Regions from separate parts of the Homo sapiens genome. Here region 2 is linked to region 1. Evidence: fine-mapped expression QTL. Tissue or cell type: monocytes. Region 1 holds a variant in brackets; the other region holds the start of a gene. All regions are shown on one strand. Distances are from middle to middle.

Region 1 (8,103 bases):
GCCTGCATGGCTGGATGTGCATATAAGGACAGAGACCCGTGCGGCCACCGTCGCCACCAGGTCCCTTGCACCCAGTGAGAGCCAGTCTGGAATGGGCGGGACCTGGCCCCTTCCTCAGCCATGGAGTGCCCTTGGCAAGTTCTGTGGCCTCTCAGAGTCCCAGTGTCTCATCTGCACCATCAACATGCCACTTGGTCCTGGCCTCCGGGGCTGCTGCAGCATCCTTTTGGTCAGATATTCCACAAACATTTCTTAACCAGAGCAGAGCTCCAGGCATGGTTCAGCCTTCAACCAGGGCACAGGCAGGGAGGGAAACGCCCCGGGGGAAGGAGAGAGCAGTGTTGGAGTAAGTGGGGTGAGGGTGAAGACCCCAGGGCACCTGGGCCAGCAGGAGTTGGGGAGGGTGCCCAGGAGGCTGAAACGGCCAAGTGACCTCCAGGCTGACCATCCCAGTGTCCAGCCACCCCCGCTGAAGCCACCCTGTGCTCTCCTTTGTGGTCCCTCCTCACCTAGGAAGAGCAGAAAGGACACAGCACCCACCCGCGGGACCCCTTTCCTGAGCAGAAAGTGCCCTGTGCCAGCCTGGCCACCGCCTCACTGTGAGGATATGCACACTCTAGGCTGGGCCACCTGGCTGTATGAGCCCCAGCCCAGCGAGCGGCACAATGGGGATGACCCCAGCACACCTGCCAGGACCCCTGCCCCACAGGGCCTGCCACTCCCTCCACAGGCCTCAGCTTAGGGTCTGTACCTTTGCCCCAGATCTGGGTTCCAGCCCCAGGGACTTGGCACACAGCCGGTGCCTAATAACAGCTTGTTGGATGGATAGATGAGCGGATGGGCGGGTGAGTGGGTGAAGGGGCGCTGCGAAGACATCTGTCTCATTGCCTTCTCATGGGAGGATAAGATAGGAGGAGGAGACGGGGCCTCAGGCTGGCAGGGCCTTAAAATCCTGCAGCCCCACGGCCAGCACCAGGCAGTGGGGACGGAGCCCCAGGTCACTGAAGGCTCCCTTGTTACTTCTGCTGGCTTCATCTGGACAAACAGAAGCCGCTTTCCAGCTGGCTTCAGCAGTTTTCACTTAGATTTTCTTCTTTTTTTTTTTTTTTTTTGAGACAGAGTCTCACTCTGTCACCCAGGCCAGAATGCAGTGGCGTGGTGGCATGATCTTGGCTCACTGCAACCTCCGCCTCCTGGGTTCAAGTGATTCTCCTGCCAGGTAGCTGGGATTACAGGCGTGCACCACCACATCTGGCTAATTTTTGTATTTTTAGTAGAGACAGGGTTTCACCATGGGGGCCAGGCTGGTCTCACACTCCCCACCTCAGGTGATCTGCCCGCCTCAGCCTCCCAAAGTGCTGGGATTACAGACGGGAGTCACCATGCCCAGCCTAGGTTTTCTTTTCCTTTCTGTTTTTTATTTTCGTTGCTGTTGTTGTTGTTTGAGATAGTCTTGCTCTGTGGCCCAAGCTGGAGTGCAATGGTGGGATTCTGGCTCACTGCAACCCCCGCCTCCTGGGTTCAAGCAATTCTCCTGCCTCAGCCTCTCGAGTAGCTGGGACTACAGGCGCGGGCCACCACACCCGGCTAATTTTTTGTATTTTTAGTAGAGATGGGTTTTCACCATGTTGGCCAGGCTGGTCTTGAACTCCTGACCTCTCAGGTGATCCACCCGCCTCGGCCTCCCCAAGTGCTGGGATTACAGGTGTGAGCCACCGTGCCTGGCCTAGGTTTTCTTTTGCTTGTGTACCAATGTTTTTGGCTGGTTGGCGTCTTGTTTGTGCTGAAATAGCAAGCCAGTTTTCCTCACTTTGGAGCTGCATTGTCTATCATGTGAAGATGTTCATAACCACCAGTGTCTGCTTCTAGCTCTTTCCTATCCTTTGTTTCTGGAGTTTACTTGTGTGTGAGGAAGGCTTTTGTGGGGACCAAGGTACATGGAGCAGTTGGGAGGTGAAAGTTTGTCACTGGGTCCTACCTGTGCAGAACGTCAGTCCCAGCCGAGAAAGCAAGGGCCAGGGCAGTAGTTCTCAAACTTGTGTTAGCCTCAGTCACCTGGAGAGCTGGTTGTGCCATGGCTTCCGATGCAGCAAGTCTGGAGTGCGCCCCAGAGGTGTGCATTTCCACCGGGTCTCCTGGTGGTCCCGATGCTGCCAGCCCCAGGTGAATACAAACCACAGCTGCCGAGAATTTTAGCACTGAGGTCTTGGGCAAGGCATTCTCCTCTCCTTCATCCTTGGTTTCCCATCTGCAAAAGTGAGGGAGTAGGGTGCAGTGGCTCACACCTGTAATCTCAGCACTTTGGGAGGCCAAGGTGGGAGGATCACCTGAGCCTAGGAGTCTGACACCAGCCTGGGCAACATAGCAAGACCCCGGTCTCTACAAAAAAATTTAAAAATTAGCCCAGCTGGTAATGTGCTTCTATAGTCCCAGCTACTCAGGAGGCTGAGGCAGGAGGATCTCTTGAGCCTGGGGAAGTTGAGGCTGCTGTGAGCCGTAAGCCATGACCATACCACTGCACGCCAGCTTGGGCAACAGAGTGAGACCCTGTCTCAAAAAAAAAAAGTGAGGGCATTAGACTCCGTGATGGCTGTCACCTCCATCCTCAAGTTGGACAAGACTGTCGGGGTGGGCTGGGGATCTGTGGGAGGGAGGGTGTTTGAGAATGTGGAAGTGGAACAGCCTTGCACGGGAGCTGTTTTCAGGAAAGGGACTCATGACAAAGCCAGGGTTCTAAGCCCCTTCCAACACCAAAGGGCCTCTTAGAGAGAGACTCAGAACTTAAAGGGAGACTCGGCAACCAGGAAGCAAGTAGCAAAGCATCACTCCAAGCAGGCATTTTGCAGTGTATGAGAGGCAAAGGAAACCTCCTTTAAAACTCTGGAAACAAGCATAAACTGATATTTCCCAGGCCCTGCCAGCCTGGGAGTCAAATGAGGTCATGTTACCACCCAAATCTGCCTGAGAACAGAGTCCTGTCTCCCTGCCGGGCCAGGCAAATGCCACTTCAAGATACAGTCCGTTGAGAACCCCTAGACTGGGACCTTAAGCTGCAACGTGTGATGAAGGCTTTCTAGAAAAATGCAATTGCAGGGTTGGTCTAGAGCCCGCTTTTCTTGCCTGGGCCCCAGCAGGATCCAGTGGCCTGAGCGGGGAACAGATTCAAGTCCCAGAACAGGATGGGGGACAGCCTCACCTACCAATTTCCTTTCCATTCTTTTTTTTTTTTTTTTTTTTTGGAGACAGGCTTTCGCTCTGTCACCCAGGCTGGAGTGCAATGGCGCGACCTTGGCTCACTGCAACCCCTGCCTCCTGGGTTCAAGCGATTCATGTACCTCAGCCTTCCAAGTAGCTGGGACTACAGGTGCCAGCCACCACGCCCAGCTAATTTTTGTATTTTTAGTAGCGACAGAGTTTCACCATGTTGGCCAGGCTGGTCTTGAACTCCTCACCTCAGGTGATCTGCCCGCCTCAGCATCCCAAAGTGCTGGGATTACAAGCATGAGCCACCATGCCAGGCCTGCAATTTCTTAGACTATTGAATGGCCCTGGAGTCAGATTGCTTGGGGTCAAAGGCCACTTTTACCACCTGCTGTGTGACCTTCAGCCCTTGAGCAAGTTATTTAACTTCTCTGTGCCTCAGGGAGCTCATAACAGCACTATACTGTGGGGTGGTGCCAGATCTGTCTCATAGACCCTGGCCAACGGATGAAATGAGTTCTCAGACACAGGCATACAGCATAAGAGCAGCTGGGTGACTGCCTGGCTCAAGTGGCCAGAGAGCAGCCCCAAGAAGCTGGAGCTGCTTGCTTTTATTCAGTGCAGGCACAATGTGGAAAACCTGGAGCCGACACGACCTGCAGGTAACTGACAATTACTGTGGCCAGGCACGGTGGCTCACGCCTCTAATCCCAGCACTTTGGAAGGTCAAGGCAGGTGGATCATGAGGTCAGGAGTTCAAGACCAGCCTGGCCAAGATGGTGAAACCCCGT[C/G]TCTACCAAAAATACAAAAATTAGCTGGGAGTGGTGGCACGCACCTGTAATCCCAGCTACTCGGGAGGCTGAGGCAGGAGAATTGCTTGAATCCTGCCGGGGTAGAGGTTGCAGTGAGCAGAGACAGTGATACTGCACTTAAGCCTGGGTGACAGAGTGAGACTCTATCTCAAAAAAAAAAAAAAGGTATTGTTCCCCTTTCAGGGAACCTCACACCCGCATGATCAAAGGTCAGTTCCTGGACAACATAAACAAACAAGCCTTTTAAGATAAATTCCCCCACACTCCCTTGTACCTACTCCTTGCCCTCTGCCTCAGGGTTATAGAACAGCTGCCTTCAGTTATTCTCCCCCAGGGCTCTGCAAAACCTTCTGACCTTTCGGAAGGTTTGCATCCTTTCCCTATAGTTTTTCCCACCACTCTGACAGATCCCCCACAGGGTCGACTGGGGGATTATGAAGACTAATAGGATAATGCCTGCTCAGCCCATAACGGAGTGTCTGGATCTCAGTGAAGGTTATTGTACTGTAATACGTAGACACTATATGTACTCATTGTTTGCCGCATATATTTGTGCAGAAGTTGATTGGTGAATAAACAGGACATCGTTTTCACTCAGTGGGTCTCAGCCATTCTCAAACTAATCCTTTTATGGAATCAGTCTCAAAAAAAGAAGCCTTCTTCAGGCATGGCTACACCCAGCTATCCAATCATAATGTAAGCATCCAGGTTTTGGAGCTCTAGAAATTGGCAGAACAGGTAGACAACACCCCATAATATAGGTCTCAATCCAGGCTCTAGGAACCCCTGGAAAATCCTGAAATAGATGTCAGAGGGTATCTAAACCCCTCAAGTGCATGTATTATTCTTGTGTGTCTCTGCAGATTTCTGGGAAAGGGACCACCATCTTTCTCAGGTTGTCAAAGGAGCCAGCAACCCCCGAAAGTTGTAAGATTCTGCCTCAGGGAAGATGATGCAGGCCTCAGCAGGTGCCCTCAACAGCACAGACACTCCCAGGGACACCCCGGGCACCCCAGGCACCAAAGCACTGGGGCAAAGATGAGAGTGGCTCACTCCACATCTCCTTTGCTGAGAGCCAAGCCCTCTCCAAAGCCAAGAGAAAACAACAAAATCGGACGGCAGTGCACACTCAGAAGCATGAAACCCTGGCGAGGAAGCATCATTACAATTAGCCGTGACGACAGGCTGCCTATGATCTTAGGACGCACAGTGGTTCTGCGTCATCACAGACAGCAAGGGGTTCAGGAGGCGGCCGGTCGGCAGCGGACAGGACATGGTGAGAGGTGACAGCGTGCTGGCAGCCCTTGCAGCCCTCGCTCGCTCTCGGTGCCTCCTCGGCCTTGGCGCCCACTCTGGCCGTGCTTGAGGAGCCCTTCAGCCCACCGCTGCACTGTGGGAGCCCCTTTCTGGGCTGGCCAAGGCCGGAGCCGGCTCCCTCAGCTTGCTGGGAGGTGTGGAGGGAGAGGTGCGGGCTGCGCGCGGCGCTTGCGGGCCAACGCAAGTTCCTGGTGGGCGTGGACTCGGCTGGCCCAGCACTCGGAGAGGCCGGCCGGCCAGCCCGCAAGCCCGGGGCAGTGAGGGGCTTAGCACCTGGGCCAGCATTTGCTGTGCTCGATTTCTCGCCAGGCCTTAGCTGCTTCCCCGCAGGGCAGGGCTTGGGACCTGCAGCCCGCCATGCCTGAGCCTCCTCCCCCTCCCCACCGTGGGCTCCTGCGAGGCCCGAGCCTCCCAGACGAGCGCTGCTCCCTGCTCCATGGCGCCCAGTCCCATTGACCGCCCAAGGGCTGAGGAGTGTGGGCGTACAGCGCGGGACTGGCAAGCAGCTCCACCTGAGGCCCCGTGGGGGATCCACTGGGTGAAGCCAGCTGGGCTCCTGAGTCTGGTGGGGACTTGGAGAATCTTTATGTCTAGCTAAGGGGTTGTAAATGCACCAATCAGCACTCTGTATCTAGCTGAAGGTTTGTAAACACACCAATCGGCACCCTCTGCCTAGCTCAGGGTTTGTGAATGCACCAGTCGGCACTCTGTATCTAGTTAATCTGGTGGGGACTTGGAGAATCTTTATGTCTAGCTAAGGGATTGTGAATGCACCAATTGGCACTCTGTATCTAGCTCAAGGTTTGTAAATGCACCAATCAGCACTCTATATCTAGCTCAGGGTTTGTAAATACACCAATGGACACTCTGTATCTAGCTAATCTAGTGGGGACGTGGAGAACTTTTGTGTCTAGCTCAGGGATTGTAAACGCACCAATCAGCACCCTGTCAAAACGGACCAATCAGCTCTCTGTAAAATGGACCAATCAGCAGGATGCGGGTGGGGCCAGATAAAAGAATAAAAGCGGGCTGCCGAAGCCAGCCGTGGTTGCCTTACACACTATGCAAGCTTTGCTGTTTGCAGTAAAACTGGCTGCTGCTTGCTCTTTGGGTCCACACTGACTTTATGAGCTGTAGCACTCACCATGAAGGTTTGTAGCTTTACTCTTGAAGCCAGTGAGATTAAAAACCCACCGGGAGGAACAAACAACTCCAGTACGCGCCGCCTTAGGAGCTGTAACACTCACGGCGAAGGTCTGCAGCTTCACTCCTGAGCCAGCCGCACCACGAACCTATCAGAAGGAAGAAACTCCGAACACATCCGAACGTCAGGAACAAACTCCGGCCACGCCGCCTTTAAGAACTGTAGAACTCGCTACAGCACTCACCGTGAAGGTCTGCGATTTCATTCTTGAAGTCAGTGAGACCAAGAACCCACCAAGTCCGGACACAATGGGACCTGTATGCAGTCTATGGGGCAGTTCAGACCAAAGGGCTGGGCGTGGCACCACAGCTGCCCCGAGCCCTTGGCCTCTCTGAGCTTTTCTCTCTCACCTGAGAAATGGGATTTCAAGGAAAATGAGTAGCGGTAACTTACCCACCTTACTCCACGGTTACTGTGAAGCGCCCAGAAGAGAAGCCATGGATGTGGGCGACGCATTCGAGGTTAGCTTCAGAAGCAGCGGGCGCTGGGTAGCCACATTGACACCCGGTACTAGCGCTTCCTCCTGGGGGTTCCTGGGTCCAAGGGGGTTGTGGCAGTCCTTGCCACAGAGATGCAGAGTCTGCAATGTCCAAATGTGCTTCGTGTGCAGTGGGAGCCTGGCAAGCTGTAACCCTTGTCGTGATTCACGCGTCCCAGGGACACTTGGGGGCCGCTGTGGGCAACCCCCCACACCCCGCTTTTGGTCAGGGCTGTGCCAGCAGAAGGCTGGGGCTGGACAATAGAGGGGATGTTGGGGCCGGGTGGGAGGCGGGAAAGGAGAAGGAGGGAAGTTTAGCAAGGAAAGAGCAGAAACGTCCCAGAGAAATTAAATTTCAGTTTTGTGGTGAACAGCTGGATCCTTTTTCCCATATCCTCACCAAAAAATTCCAATACTATCTTTGTCACCTTGTGTCATGGATCTATTTTGAGCTCTCTCGCGGTTCCTGAGCTCCTGTGTTTAGAGTGCACCAGGCTCTGCCTTCCGGGTTCAAGTCATTTTTTTTTTTGAGATGGAGTCTCGCTCTGTCGTCCCAGGCTGGAGTGCAGTGGCATGATATCGGCTCACTGCAACCTCCGCCTCCCGGGTTCAAGTGATTCTCCTGCCTCAGCCTCTCAAGTAGCTGGGATTACAGGTGCACGCCACCACGCCTGGCTGATTTTTGTATTTTTAGTAGAGGTGGGGGTTTCACTGTGTTGTCCAGGCTGGTCTCAAACTCCTGGCCTCAAATGATCCACCCAGCTAGGCCTCCTAAAGTGCTGGGATTACAGGTGTGAGCCACCGCGCCCGGCCTTGCGATTTTTGTATCTCAGCTCAGCTCTTCACACGAATTCATCCTCACAACCGCAGGGGATTCGGAGGGGTCCAGTAATTTTTCCCTTTTCACAGCCAAAGCAGCTGAATCACCAAGGCCATGAAACGAATGAGGATCTGCCTGATGTTCACCAGGCTGGCCCCTCCAGATCACTGCAAAGTGGGGCAAGATGAGAACAGCGCCAGGGGTTGATGACACCCAGGGCGCCCCAGCAGGACATCCTGGCCCAACTGCCCTCCAGGGTCCCGGTCAGAGG
Region 2 (8,103 bases), 110 kb before region 1:
GTGCCCCAGGCTGGAGTGCAGTGGCGCGATCTCGGCTCACTGCAAGCTCCACCTCCCAGGTTCATGCCATTCTCCTGCCTCAGCCTCCCGAGTAGCTGGGACTACAGGCGTGTGCCATGACACCTGGCTAATTTTTGTATTTTTAGTAGAGACGGCGTTTCACCATGTTAGCCACGATGGTCTCAATGTCCTGACCTCGTGATCTGCCTGCCTCGGCCTCCCAAAGTGCTGGGATTACAGGCATGAGCCACCGCGCCTGGCCAAAACACATCATTGTTAAATAACTCCTCAGGCTACCCTTCTCTATGGGAAAATGCAGAGTAAATCAACAGATTTTTAATAGCAAAATGGCCAAGGAAAAAGCAGGATAGAGACAACGCAAAGATACAAACAATCTACCAAATGAATAAAGCCACTAATGTTACTTAGGCTCAAACAGTATCCCCCAAAGTGAGAGGCTGGATACTCACAACTCGATAAAGGGTGACATTCACCTGATATTGTTGCTGTCTCACATGGCCTTAATCATCTTATTGCTTTTGTCTTCACTGTTCTTCAATTTTGTGCCCTTCTCTAGTGCCAGCCATTGTGGTAGGCCCTGAAGAACACCCTCATGGAGAGCATATTCTGTAGAGGAAGACAGGCACACTAATAGTATCAACACAACCAATACAAATGCTGACTGCTGTTATGGGAAAACCTAGGAGGGATACACAGGCAGATTTGGAGGATTAGGTAAGGCTTTCCAACTTCCCAACTTCTCCAACAACTTGCAGAGAAGTTGTCCTGAGACCTGAGAGATGAATGAGAGGTATGATTTGGAGGCAAAGGCCAGGAAACTGGAAAGACTATAAAACACCTTGAGGAAATGACAGGAAAATGGGGATGAGGGACAGATGACATATGAGAGGAAGCAGGGACTCAATCGGAGTTTGGTATTCACCTTGAAGGCAAATGGGAGCTGCTGGAAGGATTCTGTGTTTTTTTTTTTTTTGAGACAGATTCTCACTGCTGCCCAGGGTGGAGTGCAGTGGTGTGATCTCAGCTCACTGCAACCTTTACCTCCCACCTGGAAGGTAGATGTTAGCGTAGGGTGGTGAAAGGCTTGTGCACTCATCTTAATCTTAAATATATACCTTGGCCAGGCAAGGAGGCTCACGGCTGTAATCCCAGCACTTTTGGAGGCTGAGGCTGGCAGATCGCCTAAGGCCAGGAGTTTGAGACCAGCCTGGGCAACATGGCAAAACCCCATTTCTACTAAAAATACAAAAATTACCCAGGCGTGGTGGCATGTGCCTGTGGTCCTAGCTACTCAGGAGGCTGAGGTGGGTGAATTACTTGAGCCTGGGAGGTGGAGGTTGCACTGAGCCAAGATGGCACCACTGCATTCCAGTCTGGGCAACAGAGGCAGACCCTGTCTCAAAAAATAAAAATAAATTTTAAAAAATTGAAAAAATACATATCTCAATGATTGTATGTATATAATGATTTTATATATAAATGATTTATATATTACTTTATCTATATTAAATGTCTATATAAGACAGATATGTAATTTCCAGCACTCCATAAGATTTCCTTGGGAGCTTCCTCATCTACCTCTGCCTCCAGGGGTAACCTGGTATGCACTATATACTCTTTTTCTCTTTTTTTTTTGAGATGGAGTCTTGCTCTGTCGCCCAGGCTGGAGTGCAGTGGCGTGATCTCGGCTCACTGCAAGCTCCGCCTCCCAGGTTCACACCATTCTCCTGCCTCAGCCTCCTGAGTAGCTGGGACTACAGGCGTCCGCCACCATGCCTGACTGATTTTTTTGTATTTTTTAGTAGAGACAGGGTTTCACCGTGTTAGCCAGGATGGTCTCAAATCTCCTGACCTCGTGATCCACCCACCTCGGCCTCCCAAAGTGCTGGGATTACAGGCGTGAGCCACTGCGCCCGGCCCTATATACTCTTTTATCTACCTCTTTTTGTGCTCAGCATAGTGTCTGAGCTTCATCTATATTGTATGTACCAGTAGTTCATCCTCCTATTACTTTGTAATACAGAAAAAAACTGAGAAAAGCTTTGAAATGGTCTAAAACAGATTACTGGGGCCAGGCATGGTGGCTCAAGCCTGTAATCCCAGTACTTTGGGAGGCCAAGGCAGGCAGATCACCTGAGGTCAGAAGTTCATGACCAGCCTGGACCACATGGTGAAACCCCATCTCTACTAAAAATACAATAAATTAGCCAGGCGTGGTGGCACGTACCTGTAGTCCCAGCTGCTCGGGAAGCTGGGGCAGGAAAATCGCTTGAACCTGGGAAGTGGAGGTTGCAGTGAGCTGAGATCACACCACTGTACTCCAGTCTGGGTGACAGAGCAAGACTCCATCTAAGACAAACAACAAAAAAATGATTACTGGGTGTCATTGAAAAACAAGGTGCCCAGCTGTCCAGCTTACTTTTCTAGGATGTCTGATTCTATGAAGACTCTAAACCTTTCACTGTCTTTGAGCTACAGAACAACTATACAAACTATAGACACTTCTTGTCTATAGAAATGCAAATTGTGGCCGGGCACGGTGGCTCATGCCTGTAATCCTAACACTTTGGGAGGCCAAGACAGGCGGATCACCTGAGGTCAGGAGTTCGAGACCAGCCTGGCCAACACGGTGAAACCCTGTCTCTACTAAAATACAAAAAGCTAGCTGGGCATGATGGCGGGTGCCTGTAATCCCAGCTACTCGGGAGGCTGAGACGGGAGACTCTATTGAACCTGGGAGATGGTGGTTGCGGTGAGCCGAGCTTGCGCCACTGCACTCCAGCCTGGGCGGCTGAGTGAGACTCCGTCTCAAAAAAAAAAAAAAAAAAAGAAATGCAAATTGTTTTCAGTAGAATGCAATTGATTACTAAGCTGTGGATTTCATCAGTTCTGCCAGTTTTTGTATATATTTGTAGTTATTTCATTATTCCTCATTTGACTATGTGTGTGGTACTTTGAATTTTCCATTGAAGCAGTTGTAATCTTTCTGGATATCTCATTCATTAATGAGTTAAATAAAATCTCTAACATTTATTTTATATCTGTATTATATTTGATATTAAAATTATTCTTCAACAGTAGTATACAGTTATATGAATAAGCTGCAATTTATCTATTCATCTATTGGTGGACATCTGGGTTTTTTCCCTTTGGCTATTATGAATAAAGCTGCTATGAGTCTTTTGGTGAATAAAGGCATTCATTTTTTGGGGTAAATATCTAGAAATGGGATTTCTGGGGTATAGGGTAGGGGTAAATTTGATTTCAGTAGAGACTGATGTTTCCAAAGTGGTTGTACCATTTTACACTCCCATCAACACTGTATGAGAGTCCCATTTCTGCATCTTTGCAACTAAGGGAATTGTCAGTCTTTTCATTTCAGCTATTCTATGGAGTGTTTAATAGTATCATATTTTGGTTTCAATTTACCATAGAAGATTTTCAGGAGGGAGGTAACTTGAACAGATTTTTACATTTTAGAAAACTCTTTCTGCGTATTATGTGGAGAATGATTATTTGTATACCAAAGTTCATAGCAGCATTATTCACAATAGCCAAAAGGTGGGAATAACCAAGCATCCATTTATATGGATGAATGGATAAACAAAATGTAGTATACATGTATAATGGAATATTATTTAGCCTCAAGAAGGAAGAAATTCTGATACATGCTACAACATAGATGCTCCTTGAAGACATTATGCTAAGTGAAATAAGCCAATCAGAAAAGAGCAATTATTGTATGATTCAATTTATATGCGGTACCTCGCACTTACAGACAGAAAGTGCAATATCGGCTATAAGGGGTTGTGAGAAACGGGTAACGGGGAGTTACTGTGTAACAGGCAGATTTTCTATTTGGGATAATGAAAAAGTTCTGGAGATGGATAGTGGTGATGGTTTCACAACAATGTGAATGTACTTAATGCCAGTGAACTGTACACTTAAAAATGGTGAATTTTATGTTAGATAGATTTTATCACACACACAAAGAGGAGGGAGGGCGGGAGGGAAGGAGAGAGGGAAGGAAGTAGAGAGGGGAGAAGAGAGGAAGAAAGGAAAGAAAGTAAGATCTGGCATCACAGGGCCCACATTCCCGCGTGTCAGCAATAGGCTGAAACAGAAGCATGGTTTCTCACGTGTCCATGGAGGCATCTGAGTGTGTGCCCACTTTCCCGGTTCAATGACAATTTGCACCTGCTCGTGTAGAGGGGTACGGGTGAAACAGAGACCAGTATTATTAAGGGGATGGAGAGGAGAGACCGCCAAAACATCGCAGAGACACACCGTCGGAACCAAGAGAATGGGGTGCAGACGCCTGGCTTGGCCTGTGGGAACTGGCAAGTCTCAGCTCTCAAACGCCCGGGCTTTTCAACCCGCCACAGCCGGGTTCCAGCTGCCTACTTCCTTTAAAGCCTTCACCGACTCTAAAACACCAAAAACAAAGACCCAACTAGCTCCGGAAGCCCGAGATGTAACCGTAGTCATCTGACCCTCCCGTCCGGACTCTGATTGGGCTTTGGAGATACGCGTCCCTCCCGGCGCTGTACGGCGACCCCGCCCCAGCAGCCTGAGGGGGCGGGAACAGATGTCCGAGTGCGACAGTATTGGTCGGCTTCCCCAGGAAGCAGCCAATCGGAATAGGCAAGCTTCCGGCGGGAAGTGAGCCAGGGCTTGGCGCGGCGGCCGTGGTTGCGGCGCGGGAAGTTTGGATCCTGGTTCCGTCCGCTAGGAGTCTGCGTGCGAGGTGAGTACCGCGCGCGTAACTACGGGTCGGTCCGCATTGATCTAGCCCTGCTCTGGCGGCCCGGCCCGGAGCTGGAGGCCGCTCGGGTTCTTCCGTTTCCTGCACTGGTTCGCCTCGGCCCGCTGAGTCCTCTAGTCTGGCCAACATCCTGGGAGGACAGCAGATACATAAATACGTTCCCAAATGGGGAAACAGAGGCCCGGGGCGGGGGCGAACTCTGCCAAGGTCTCCCGGGGCGTCGGAGGCCGAGCATGGGCTAGGACCTGGCATGTTGTTGCCCATATACTCCAGTGCGTAACATGATGCCCTGCACAGAGTAATCCCAGCCCAGACCTCTGGCACTACTACCTCCGTGTCCCTCCTGAGGAACAACGAAAACACTTTGTACTTTTTCTGTGGCCTTCCATAATCACGAGCTGGGCTACTCTTGTTTTTGAGTGTCTACTGTGTGCCATGTTCCTGGCACCCTTGATCTTACAACTGTAGCTTTACGATATCCCAGCAAAGCGAAGTGCTTAAGAATACTGCATCAGATTGCTTGGGTTCGAATTCTGGCTCCTTCACATTTAGCTCTGTGTCTACTGCACGTTACTGAAACACTAAGTGTCTTGGTTTTCGTCTGTCATATGGGGGAAATGGTCTCTTCTACTTCCTGGCGTTTTTGTTAGGATTAAACGACTTAATATATGCAATAATAAATGCTTCGAAGGCTACCTGTTACATAGTACACAGTAAGGGTTCTGTTATCATTACCCAGAGAAGCGGATGAAATTGTCCCCATTTTAGACATGGAGAATCTGAAGTACAAAGAGGTTGTCTCCGTACAGAAAGAGCATTTGGTGATTAAGTGCTAGAGATACAGGATTTGAACTAAGCGCCTGATTTTAAAGTATGTCCCACAACATTAGGCTTTCTCCTATAGCCCTCACCTGTCCTTAGGTCACACAGAACTTTAGGTACCTCATGGCGTGAGATGGAGCAGGTGACTGACAGCTCCTTGTGCCACCCATGCAGATAAATAACACTGGTGTGTCACTGTCAAGATTAAGGGACAGGAATTCGAGAGACTGCATGAGAGATCAGAAGATGAAGAAGCGGGTAGGCAAAAGTATTCTGTTTGGGGAATAGTAAATAGAATTAATTAAATCAACATTTTGTTAGCTGGGCTGCTTATACTGTCAGACAGTAGCTTATAATCTACTGGGAAGAAATGAAATTTCTGGGTCCTGTGTCACTTTCAATGCCACTCACCATGACAGGTACCTTATAAGTATAGTTTACAGTCCTATCAGTAACCTGGAGAAGTAGTTATTTCCTTCGTTTTACTGAGGAAACCAAGAGTTAAAAAATCAGGAAAAGTGTTAGATGTGCAGTAGAACATCATCATGCTGGGAAGTTCTACACATCCGCTTCAGGACAGGTGGTATTACCTATGAGCAGGAAGGGAAGGGAAAAAGGTAAGGGGAATGAGTGATAGTTTATTGTTTTGATTTTTAAATTTTTATCTGTTTTTTCCTTTTTCATAGTCATTCCTGGAATGAGTGAGTTTGTTTTTGTTTTTGTTTTTGGGGGATGGAGTCTCGCTCTGTCGCCCAGGCTGGAGTGCAGTGGCGCGATCTTGGCTCACTGCAAGCTCCGCCTCCCGGGTTCATGCCATTCTCCTGCCTCAGCCTCCCAAATAGCTGGGACTACAGGCACCCACCACCACGCCCAGCTAATTTTTTGTATTTTTAGTAGAGACGGGGTTTCACTGTGTTAGCCAGGATGGTCTCGATCTCCTGACCTCGTGATCCGCCTGCCTCCGCCTCCCAAGGTGCTGGGATTACAGGCGAGCCACCGCGCCCGGCCATGAGTGAGATTTTAAATATATCTGAAATGAGGCCAGGCACAGTGGCTCACACCCATAATCCCAGCACTTTGGGAGGATGAGGCGGGCGAATCACCTGAGGCCAGGAGTTCGAGACTTGCCTCACCAACATGGCGAAACTCCCTCTCTATAGTAAATACAAAATTATCTGGGCGTGGTGGTGTGCGCCTGTGGTTCTAGCTACTGGGGAGGCTGAGGCACGAGAATCGCTTGAACCCAGGAGGCTGCAGTTAGTCAAGATTGCACCACTGCACTCCAGCCTGGGTGACAGAGTGAGAGTCCGTCAGTCAATCTACCTGAAATGTTTTATGCCTTTAAAAGAGAGAGAATAGGGCCGAGTTTAACTTTTTAAATTTGGTTGGTGGGTACATGGGTGTAATTCTATTTTCTGTATCTTTATGTAAGAAATATTAAAAATTAAAAGATATACATATATATTTTAATTTACATATATATGTGTTTTTTTCTAAGAGAAAAATGGATAGAATAAAGAGGTCCAAGATAATCGTAGAATAATCCTAGGACTTCAGTGCTGAAAGCCCCTAAGGGTCTCCACTACCTGTAGGATAAAATCTAAACTCCTTGGCATGATACCAGAGGCTTTTGAGCATTCTGTATCGCTAACACATACTATTCTACCTCAGCCTTTGTACCACTAGTTCATAGACTACTCTTCTTCACAACCTCAGTCCTGTCTGTAAAGTTCCACTTGTCCTTCAATATCCAATTCAGTGTTCTTTGAAAAGCTTCTCTATCATTTGCCTGTTTTTCCTTAATCTGGGAAGCCATAGTCTTTTAAGAAAAGACTTGATTGTCAGACTTATCTCGTTGCATTGTAATTATTTGTTGACATGTCTATTTTCTGCTAGTCTATAAGCTCCTTGAAGGCAGTAATAATGTCTTTCCCATCTCTGTACTTCAGTGCCTACCATGATGCCTGGCACAGAGTAGTCACTGTAGATATTAGCTGAATGAAAAATACAAGTTGAAGACAGAGAGTGAAAGTTCTTGGAGTTATGACATATGGACTTTGTTCTCTGGAATGACAGGGAACTATTGAGTTTACTTTCTTTAAAAATTCCCGTATTTTATTGAAACATATTCTCAATGTCAAGAAAAATATTCCAGTCATAATCCTATCTTTCAAACACTTGAACTATTTTTATTTTCCATGAGTCCTTTCCAAATTTCAGCTATAAAATTAGTTATACAGATTTAGCTATACAGATTTCTTAGGTAGCTGTAGCCTTAATGTATTCATAACTTAGTGTTTTTCTTTTTTCTTTCTTTTTAAACCTGACACTTGAGGAATTTTTTTTTTCTTTTCTTTTTTTTTGAGATAGGGCTCACTGCAGCTCCAGCCTCCCGGGCTCAAGTGATCCTCCCACCTCAGCTGGGAGTACAGGGGTGTACCACCATGCCTGGCTAATTCTTGTATTTGTTGTAGAGATGGGCTTTTGATTTTTTG

What was found. PIP is the estimated chance that this variant, and not a neighbour inherited with it, causes the effect.
Region 2: it holds the start of BLM, and the variant in region 1 is fine-mapped to the expression of BLM in monocytes (Fairfax 2014, PIP 0.95).

What each region holds. Positions count from the first base shown.
Region 1 is chr15:90,820,049-90,828,151 of GRCh38, forward strand. No RefSeq gene overlaps it. Among named protein-coding and RNA genes, the nearest start is that of FURIN, 44 kb to the right of the region's middle. RefSeq lists an enhancer at 5,537-6,136. The variant C/G (reference allele first, on the strand shown) is at 3,993.
Region 2 is chr15:90,712,673-90,720,775 of GRCh38, forward strand. BLM (BLM RecQ like helicase) reads left to right here and starts at 4,674. Exons shown (of 22, transcript NM_000057.4): 1 at 4,674-4,768. It overlaps CRTC3-AS1 (CRTC3 antisense RNA 1), which reads right to left and starts at 4,468. Exons shown (of 4, transcript NR_120372.1): 1 at 4,309-4,468; 2 at 495-627.